2 linked regions of the Homo sapiens genome follow. The protein of the gene in region 1 interacts with the protein of each later gene in a pairwise test. Each region holds a gene or a part of one and is shown in the gene's direction. Other genes may lie near its edges.

Region 1 (3,825 bases):
TATTTTATTTTTGAGATAGAATCTCACTCTGTGGCCCAGGCTGGAGTGCAGTGGTGCAATCTCGGCTCACTGCAACCTCCGCCTTCCAGGTTCAAGCAATTCTCCTGCCTCAGCCTCCCAAGTAGTTGAGATTACAGGCACTCGCCACCACACCTGGCTAATTTTTGTATTTTTAGTAGAGATGGGGTTTCACCATGTTGGCCAGTCTGGTCTCAAACTCCTGACCTCAAGTGATCCACCTGCTGTGGCCTCCCAAAGTGCTAGGATTACAGGCATGAGCCACTGTGCCTGGCTGACACTGGGAATTTGAGATGGAGTCTCGGTGTATTGCCAGGCTGGAGTGCAGTGCAGAGGCGCGATCTCGGCTTACTGCGATCTCCACCTCCTGGGTTCAAGCGATTCTCCTGCCTCAGCCTCCCGAGTAGCTGGGATTACAGTCATGCACCACCACTAATTTTTGTATTTTTAGTAGAGACGGGGTTTCACCATGTTGGCCAGGATGGTCTTGAACTCCTGACCTCAAGTGATCCGCTTGCCTTGGCCTTTCAAAGTGCTGGGATTACAGGCATGAGCCACAACGCCCGGCCAACACTAGGAATTTTAAAACGTCATGAATTTGTGATCTCTGAGCCCCGCTGTGCTGCACAGTGGCTCTTGTGTTCCCCAATCTTGGGGGTTTTGCTTCTCATTCTAGATGAAGAGCATGAGTGTGGGGGACCCCCGAACCTTCCCCTTCATCGAGCCCCCACCACCAGCCAGCCTGGAAACCGCCATCCTCTACCTCCGGGACCAGGGGGCCCTGGACAGCTCAGAGGCCCTCACACCCATTGGGTCCCTGCTAGCCCAGCTGCCTGTGGACGTTGTGATTGGTGAGTACCCACCCCCCTCCTGATCACTCAGGGCCCCAGGAGCGGGTATGGGCACAGCTCACTCTCTGAGTGGCCTGGGGGCAAGTCTGTTTCTTCCCTGGGTCCAGTTCATTTATTCACTCTTCACTGGGCCAGGCACTGTTCTAGGTGCTGGGCATATAGCAGTGGACAGAACAGACACAAATCTCTGGCCTCAGGGAGCTGACATTTTGGTGAAGAAGACCAGCAATACATTAGGACAATAAGGAAAAGGCATAGTAGATCAGATGGTGCCTAGTGTTCTGGAGAGAAGAAACAACGGGGTTGGGGAATGGGGAGTTGCAGTTTGTAATACAGGCCTCATGTATAAGGCAGACCTCATGGGGAAGGTAACATCTGTGCAGAGAAATGGAGATGAGGGCTAGGAGCCATGCAAATACTAGAACATGCTTGCCAGCAGAAGTCGAGAAACATGGCCGGCACAGTGGCCCACACCTGTAATCCCAGCACTTTGGGAGGCTGAGGCAGGTAGATCACGAGGTCAGCAGTTCGAGACCAGCCTGGCCAACATGGTGAAACCCTGTCTCTACTAAAAATACAAAAATTAGCTGGGTGTGGTGGCACACGCCTGTAATCCCAGCCACTTGGGAGGGTGAGGTAGGAGAATCGCTTGAACCTGGGAGGTAGAGGTTGCAGTGATGCAGTGAGCCGAGACCATGCCATTGTACTCTAGCCTGGGCGACAGAGCGAGACTCCATCTCAAAAAAAAAAAAAAAAAAAAGCAAAAACAAACAGGTGAGATTCATTTTGATAAAATAGCTGATTCAACCTAATATACCTAAAACATCACAATTTTAACATAATCAATAGAAACATTTTTGCAAGATTTTATGTTATTTTTTACCATACGACGTCTTGGAAATCTTGGTTTGGACCAGCCATGTTCAACTGCTCAGTAGCCATGTGTGGCCAGAGGCGGCCGTATTGGACAGTGCAGATGGTGCATGAGGGTGTTCGGGCAGTGGGAACAGCCAGTACAGAGGCCCTGTGGGGGCACATGCCTGCTGCTACAGGAACAGTGAGGAGCCCCGTGTGGCTGCAGTGGAGTGAGAGGGAGAAGGTGGGAGATGTAACCAACAGTCTCATCATTCATTCATTAAATCCTTTTTTTTTTTTTTTTTTTTTTTTTGAGACTGAGTTTCGCTCTTGTTGCCCAGGCTGGAGTGCAATGGTGCCATCTCGGCTCACCACAACCTCCACCTCTTGAGTTCAAGCGATTCTCCTGCCTCAGCCTCCCGAGTAGCTGGGATTACAGGCATGCGCCACCATGCCCGGCTAATTTTGTATTTTTAGTAGAGCTGGGGTTTCTCTATGTTGGTCAGGCTGGTCTTGAACTCCCGACCTCAGGTGATCTGCCCGCCTTGACCTCCCAAAGTGCTGTGATTACAGGCTTGAGCCACTGCTCCCGGTCCATTGAATGTGTGTGTGTGTGTGTGTATATATATACACACACACACACACACACACATACACACACATATATATACATACACACATATATATACACACACATATATATATGTTTTTTTTTCTTTTTGAGATGGAGTCTCGCTCTGTTGCCCAGGCTGAAGTGCAGTGGTGCAATCCCAGCTCATTGGAACTTCTGCCTCCTGGATTCAAGCAATTCTCCTGCCTCAGCCTCCTGAGTAGCTGAGACTGTAGGTGCCCGCCATCATACCTGGCTAATTTTTGTTTTGTTTTGTTTTGAGACAGTGTTTTTGCTCTGTTGCCTAGGCTGGAGTGCAGTGGTGTGATCTCAGCTAACTGCCACCTCCTGTGTTCAAGCAATTCTCCTGCCTCAGCTTCATGAGTAGCTAAAATTACAGGCTCACGCCACCACGCCTGGCTAATTTTTGTATTTTTAGTAGAGACGGGGTTTCATCATGTTGGCCAGGCTGGTCTCGAAGTCCTGACCTCAAGTGATCTGCCCACCTCAGCCTCCCAAAGTGCTGGGATTGCAGACTTGAGCCACCGTGCCCGGCCAGTATTTGTTTTTTCAGTAGAGAAGGAGTTTCACCATGTTGGTCAGGCTGATCTCAAACTACTGACCTCAAGTGTTCTGCCTGCCTCCCAAAGTGCTGGGATTACAGGCATGAGCCACTGCGCCCGGCCAATATTTGTTTTTTTAGTAGTGTCAAGGTTTCACCATGTCGGCCGTGCTGGTCTTGAACTCCTGACTTTAAGTGATCTGCCCACTTCGGCCTTTCAAACTGCTGGGATTACAGGTGTGAGCCACAGCTCCTGGCCCATTCATTAAATAATTTTTGAGCACCTGCTCTGTGCCAGGTCCTAGTCTAGATGCCAGAGATACAACAGTGAATAAAACAAAACTCCTGCCCTCACGGAGCTCACATGTAACAGGGGAGATGGACAGGGGCAGATAAATGAGTGAAAACACGGAATGTCAGCCGCTGATTGCTGCTCAGGTGGATGCAGGGCACGGTGGGCACAGTGGGGGCTGGGAGCAGTGTTAATTGGCTGTCCTGGGAGGCCAATTAACAGTGACATCTGGGCAGAGGCCTGAAGGAGGGGAGGGGACAGCTGTCCCTCTGGCCCTGGGTCAGGTGAGGAGCTTTGAATTAAATGGGAAGTGTTTAAGTGGAACTGGGTCCTAAGTGGCTGAAGGTGGCCAGAAAATTGATCAGTTGACCTGGCGGTTCTGTGAGGATCTGGAAAGGGCGGGTCCACAGAGGTCGACGGAGACCATTTTCAGTTCCCAGCCCTCCTGATCTCAGGTCTTCAGTAGCCAGTCACAAGCAGATGTGGTGCTCCTCGTCCCCACGCTGTGTCATCAGGAATAGGGCGTTAATCTTGAGGGATTTGGGGCCAGCAGACCCTCTGACCCTGTCGTTCTTGTGTGCACCGTCAGTGTCTCAGGCACTCACCTGACGCTGCAGATGCCACCACCAGAGGCTGG
Region 2 (3,825 bases), on another chromosome or scaffold:
CATAAAAATTACTCAAAAGTAATTCCCTATTTATTTTTCCCCACTGTGGGACTGTAAGCTTTTTAAAAAATAGATTTCAAAAGAAGTGGCTTTTATATATTATTAGAAATTTTCTATGCCTTTCAAAAGCATAGATTTTAGCAAGATAGATTGTTAGACGACTAAATTTTCAATTATCTGATACAAGCCTAAACAGTACATTTAACGTATATTTTTTATGTGAAAACAATATTTTAGATGAAATATGCACTTTTTAAAAATAATTATTGATTTTGAAAGCCTTGAGCATTTTAGTTATTACTGTGCTGTATTTGCATGGTTATATTATCAATGAGCATTCAAAAACTTCTGATATCCAAAATTGAGCATTCCTTGTGAATTCAGCTTGTGGCATCATTGCTATGTTTCTTGGCCTCATTACATCTTGAACATTATCTCTCAAAATTTTAGAATTTGGTTAACAGTTATCTGAAACTATGAAATTGTTAGTCTTCTATTATGGACTGTGAATATTATGTTCTGCTTTGTTTTACAAAGTATAATAATTTTTAAAGTCTTAATACGTTTTGTGTTATCTGGTTGTCCCTTCTAGAAATTATATAAAAGAGAAGTTCAACCTCCTTTCAAACCTGCTTCTGGAAAACCAGATGATACTTTTTGTTTTGATCCTGAATTTACTGCAAAAACACCTAAAGGTAATGCATGTTTATCTGTAAAATCAGAGATTTTATTTAAGTAGATAGTTTAAAAATAAACTTTCTTGTGAAGTAAAAACTAAAAGAATGGTAAATTTGCAGAGAGTTGATTTGTCCATGGGAAATATGGATCCTATACAAAACATTGCTTGGGCAGCTGTCAAGTAGATGTTTTAAATGGGAAATATTTATCAGGAAGGAAGGAACTTGGTCAAAGGGTGGCAAGTTTATTTCTTTGTTTTATAAGTCCTTTGGCATGCTAATGATTTACAGGATGGGGTAGGAGGTAAGACGTGAGATATATTACTCTGTCTTTTACAGTTTCATACATACACTCAAGAAATATTGAATACCTACTATGTACTAAGCAATGAGGATGCAGTGGTGAAAAGAACAGACAAAAAATACTGACTAAAATGGAGCATGTATACAGATGGGAGGAGACAGATAATATATAATAAATCAAATATATAATATGTTAGTAGCATTTAATGGTTTCCTTTATAGTTAAAGAAATTCTGACACTTTATATCATAGAATTCTGTGTGTAGTTATAATTAAATGTAATTATTTGGACATTAGATTCTCCCGGTTTGCCAGCCAGTGCAAATGCTCATCAGCTCTTCAAAGGATTCAGCTTTGTTGCAACTTCTATTGCAGAAGAATATAAAATCACTCCTATCACAAGTGCAAATGTATTACCAATTGTTCAGGTAAATTCCACTTAATCACATTATTCAGTTTTGGGATAATTATTTCTCTGTTATTGCTGATGTATTTTTAATCGTTTTTTTTAAAGTGATTTTTAACTTCTTTGTTTATCTATTGGTATAAATCATGAATTAAATATGTCCCTGTGTGTTTTGGAAAAGAGCAGACAGTGGTAACTTTTAATTATATTTATGTGGCCTCTTTTGAATAAAATAGAAGGGTGATGTATAAGCTAGTTGCTTTATTATGTTGCCTGTGGGTATCAAGAAAGGATTGGTTCACGCCATTTATAAATGTCGATAAAACTTCTGTAGAATGAATTATTCTAGTTTAAGGCTTAAGATGAATGTATATTTAGGACAAAAGACAGAAAATGTGAAAATATTTCATTCTCCTTAGTATTTTACTTTTTAAAAATAAACAGATAAATGGAAATGCTGCACAATTTGGTGAAGTATATGAATTGAAGGAGGATATTGGTGTTGGCTCCTACTCTGTTTGCAAGCGATGCATACATGCAACTACCAACATGGAATTTGCAGTGAAGGTATTGTCTCTGAGCCTAGCTTTCTTGTTTGTTTTATGCATGTAATTTAAATTATGAGTCAACTGACAAACATTTTCAGTGGAGTAAATGAAGATAGGAAAGATAAGATGATGAGAAAGAACTCTGAGACTTAATATTTTCATTTTTGAATTTCTTTTCAAGCCTTTGTTATGTAGGAACAGTGTATTTCATGAATTTTTGCATTTGAATAATTTTGTTATACATGTATTATGTTAAGATTGAGCAGTTGTGATAATTACAATCACGTCATCATTGGTACAATTTCAGTGAAATAGGATATAATGTTAAAATTTTATTTTTTTCTGTTAAGTTTTTTACTTATGTTTTTAAATGTTAAAATAATATGAGGTAAGTATTGTTCTTGAGTTTTTAAGCATTTCTTCAAAAATATAACCAAATGGAAAATACTCATTTTAGACAAAATAATTTGTTTGCCTCAGATATTTTTCTTTTTTCGTATTTCTTAGATCATTGACAAAAGTAAGCGAGACCCTTCAGAAGAGATTGAAATATTGATGCGCTATGGACAACATCCCAACATTATTACTTTGAAGGATGTAGGTATTTCTAAATCTAGGTATCAGCTAAGCTAATGAAGTTATGAATTGGAACTTTATTTTTCTTATTGAAACTTTTAATGTCTTTAGCATATTTATTTTCATGCCTCAAAAATCTCAGGACTCTTAAATTGCCACTTTAATTCTTTTTTTTCCCATGATTCTATACTTCTAGTCTTATAGAATATCAAAAATAACTATGATGATTGGTAAATGAGAATTTCCTCATTACATGAATATATTCTGGCTGGTTAACTAGTTAACATTGTAGCTAACACCAATTATTATTCTGTAGTGCTATCAATACAGAAGATACAGGAGACTGGGGATCTGCCAAATTCTTGAATATTTTACTTTCTTGATTGTATAGTAATTGGCTATAGCATTATGGATTGTTTCTGGAGTGAAATAGTCTTAGTCTATAGTTTTGTAAAATGAATGTATAACTCATTAATATGTTACTGAATGCTCACTTTTCACATAAGGAGATAATGTTCTTTTCTCTTTATACAAGACAGAAAAGTCAACTATCACCTTGATCAATTTGTGTCAGAAAATGATATGCACTTTGATTTGTAATCTTTAAACTACTGTGGTGTGTGTGTGTGTGTGTTTATCATACATGCCCTGAGTGAAAAGTGTATAAATACTTTTCTTATTTGTTTTCCTTGGTATACTATTGGAATTCAACCAGTATTTAAGATACCAAATCAGATAATGAACTGAGGGAAGGGTATAAAAAATAAATAATGTATTTACTTTCAGAAAGAAGCTTACGTTTGGGGAAGAGAAGTAGCTATAATACAGTAAAAAAATTGAGATAGAGGTCATTTGAGAGGCACAGAGTTCTATTTTTTAATTTCTTTCTTTGATGAACTGCAACCTATAACTTCAAAAGGCAATAAAATTATATGTTTAACATGGTTTCATGGGACTGTGTAGGTGACTGTTTAGCCAATTCAACCTTTAGTACAGCCTGTACTGCATTAAGAGTAAAGGAATAATGTCTTTTTTGTTTCTAATACTAGAGGGAAGTCTAGTAGAAAGGTAAATATAATTAAAATCTAATTTAAGAATTATAGAATTGTAATTATAAATAATAACATTTTAAAACTGCGTTCTTTTGTAGGTCTTTGATGATGGTAGATATGTTTACCTTGTTACGGATTTAATGAAAGGAGGAGAGTTACTTGACCGTATTCTCAAACAAAAATGTTTCTCGGAACGGGAGGCTAGTGATATACTATATGTAATAAGTAAGACAGTTGACTATCTTCATTGTCAAGGAGTAAGT

What was found.
Region 2: the proteins of DHX34 (region 1) and RPS6KA6 interact in a two-hybrid assay, tested with the Homo sapiens proteins (one large-scale study listed by BioGRID and IntAct).

The regions. Positions count from the first base shown.
Region 1 is NC_000019.10:47,366,287-47,370,111, forward strand, and holds part of DHX34 (probable ATP-dependent RNA helicase DHX34), read left to right. Parts: intron 1-694; coding exon 695-869; intron 870-3,825. UniProt on the Homo sapiens protein: Probable ATP-binding RNA helicase required for nonsense-mediated decay (NMD) degradation of mRNA transcripts containing premature stop codons. Promotes the phosphorylation of UPF1 along with its interaction with key NMD pathway proteins UPF2 and EIF4A3.
Region 2 is NC_000023.11:84,104,493-84,108,317, reverse strand, and holds part of RPS6KA6 (ribosomal protein S6 kinase alpha-6), read left to right. Parts: intron 1-592; coding exon 593-695; intron 696-1,277; coding exon 1,278-1,408; intron 1,409-1,830; coding exon 1,831-1,953; intron 1,954-2,441; coding exon 2,442-2,531; intron 2,532-3,660; coding exon 3,661-3,819; intron 3,820-3,825. UniProt on the Homo sapiens protein: Constitutively active serine/threonine-protein kinase that exhibits growth-factor-independent kinase activity and that may participate in p53/TP53-dependent cell growth arrest signaling and play an inhibitory role during embryogenesis.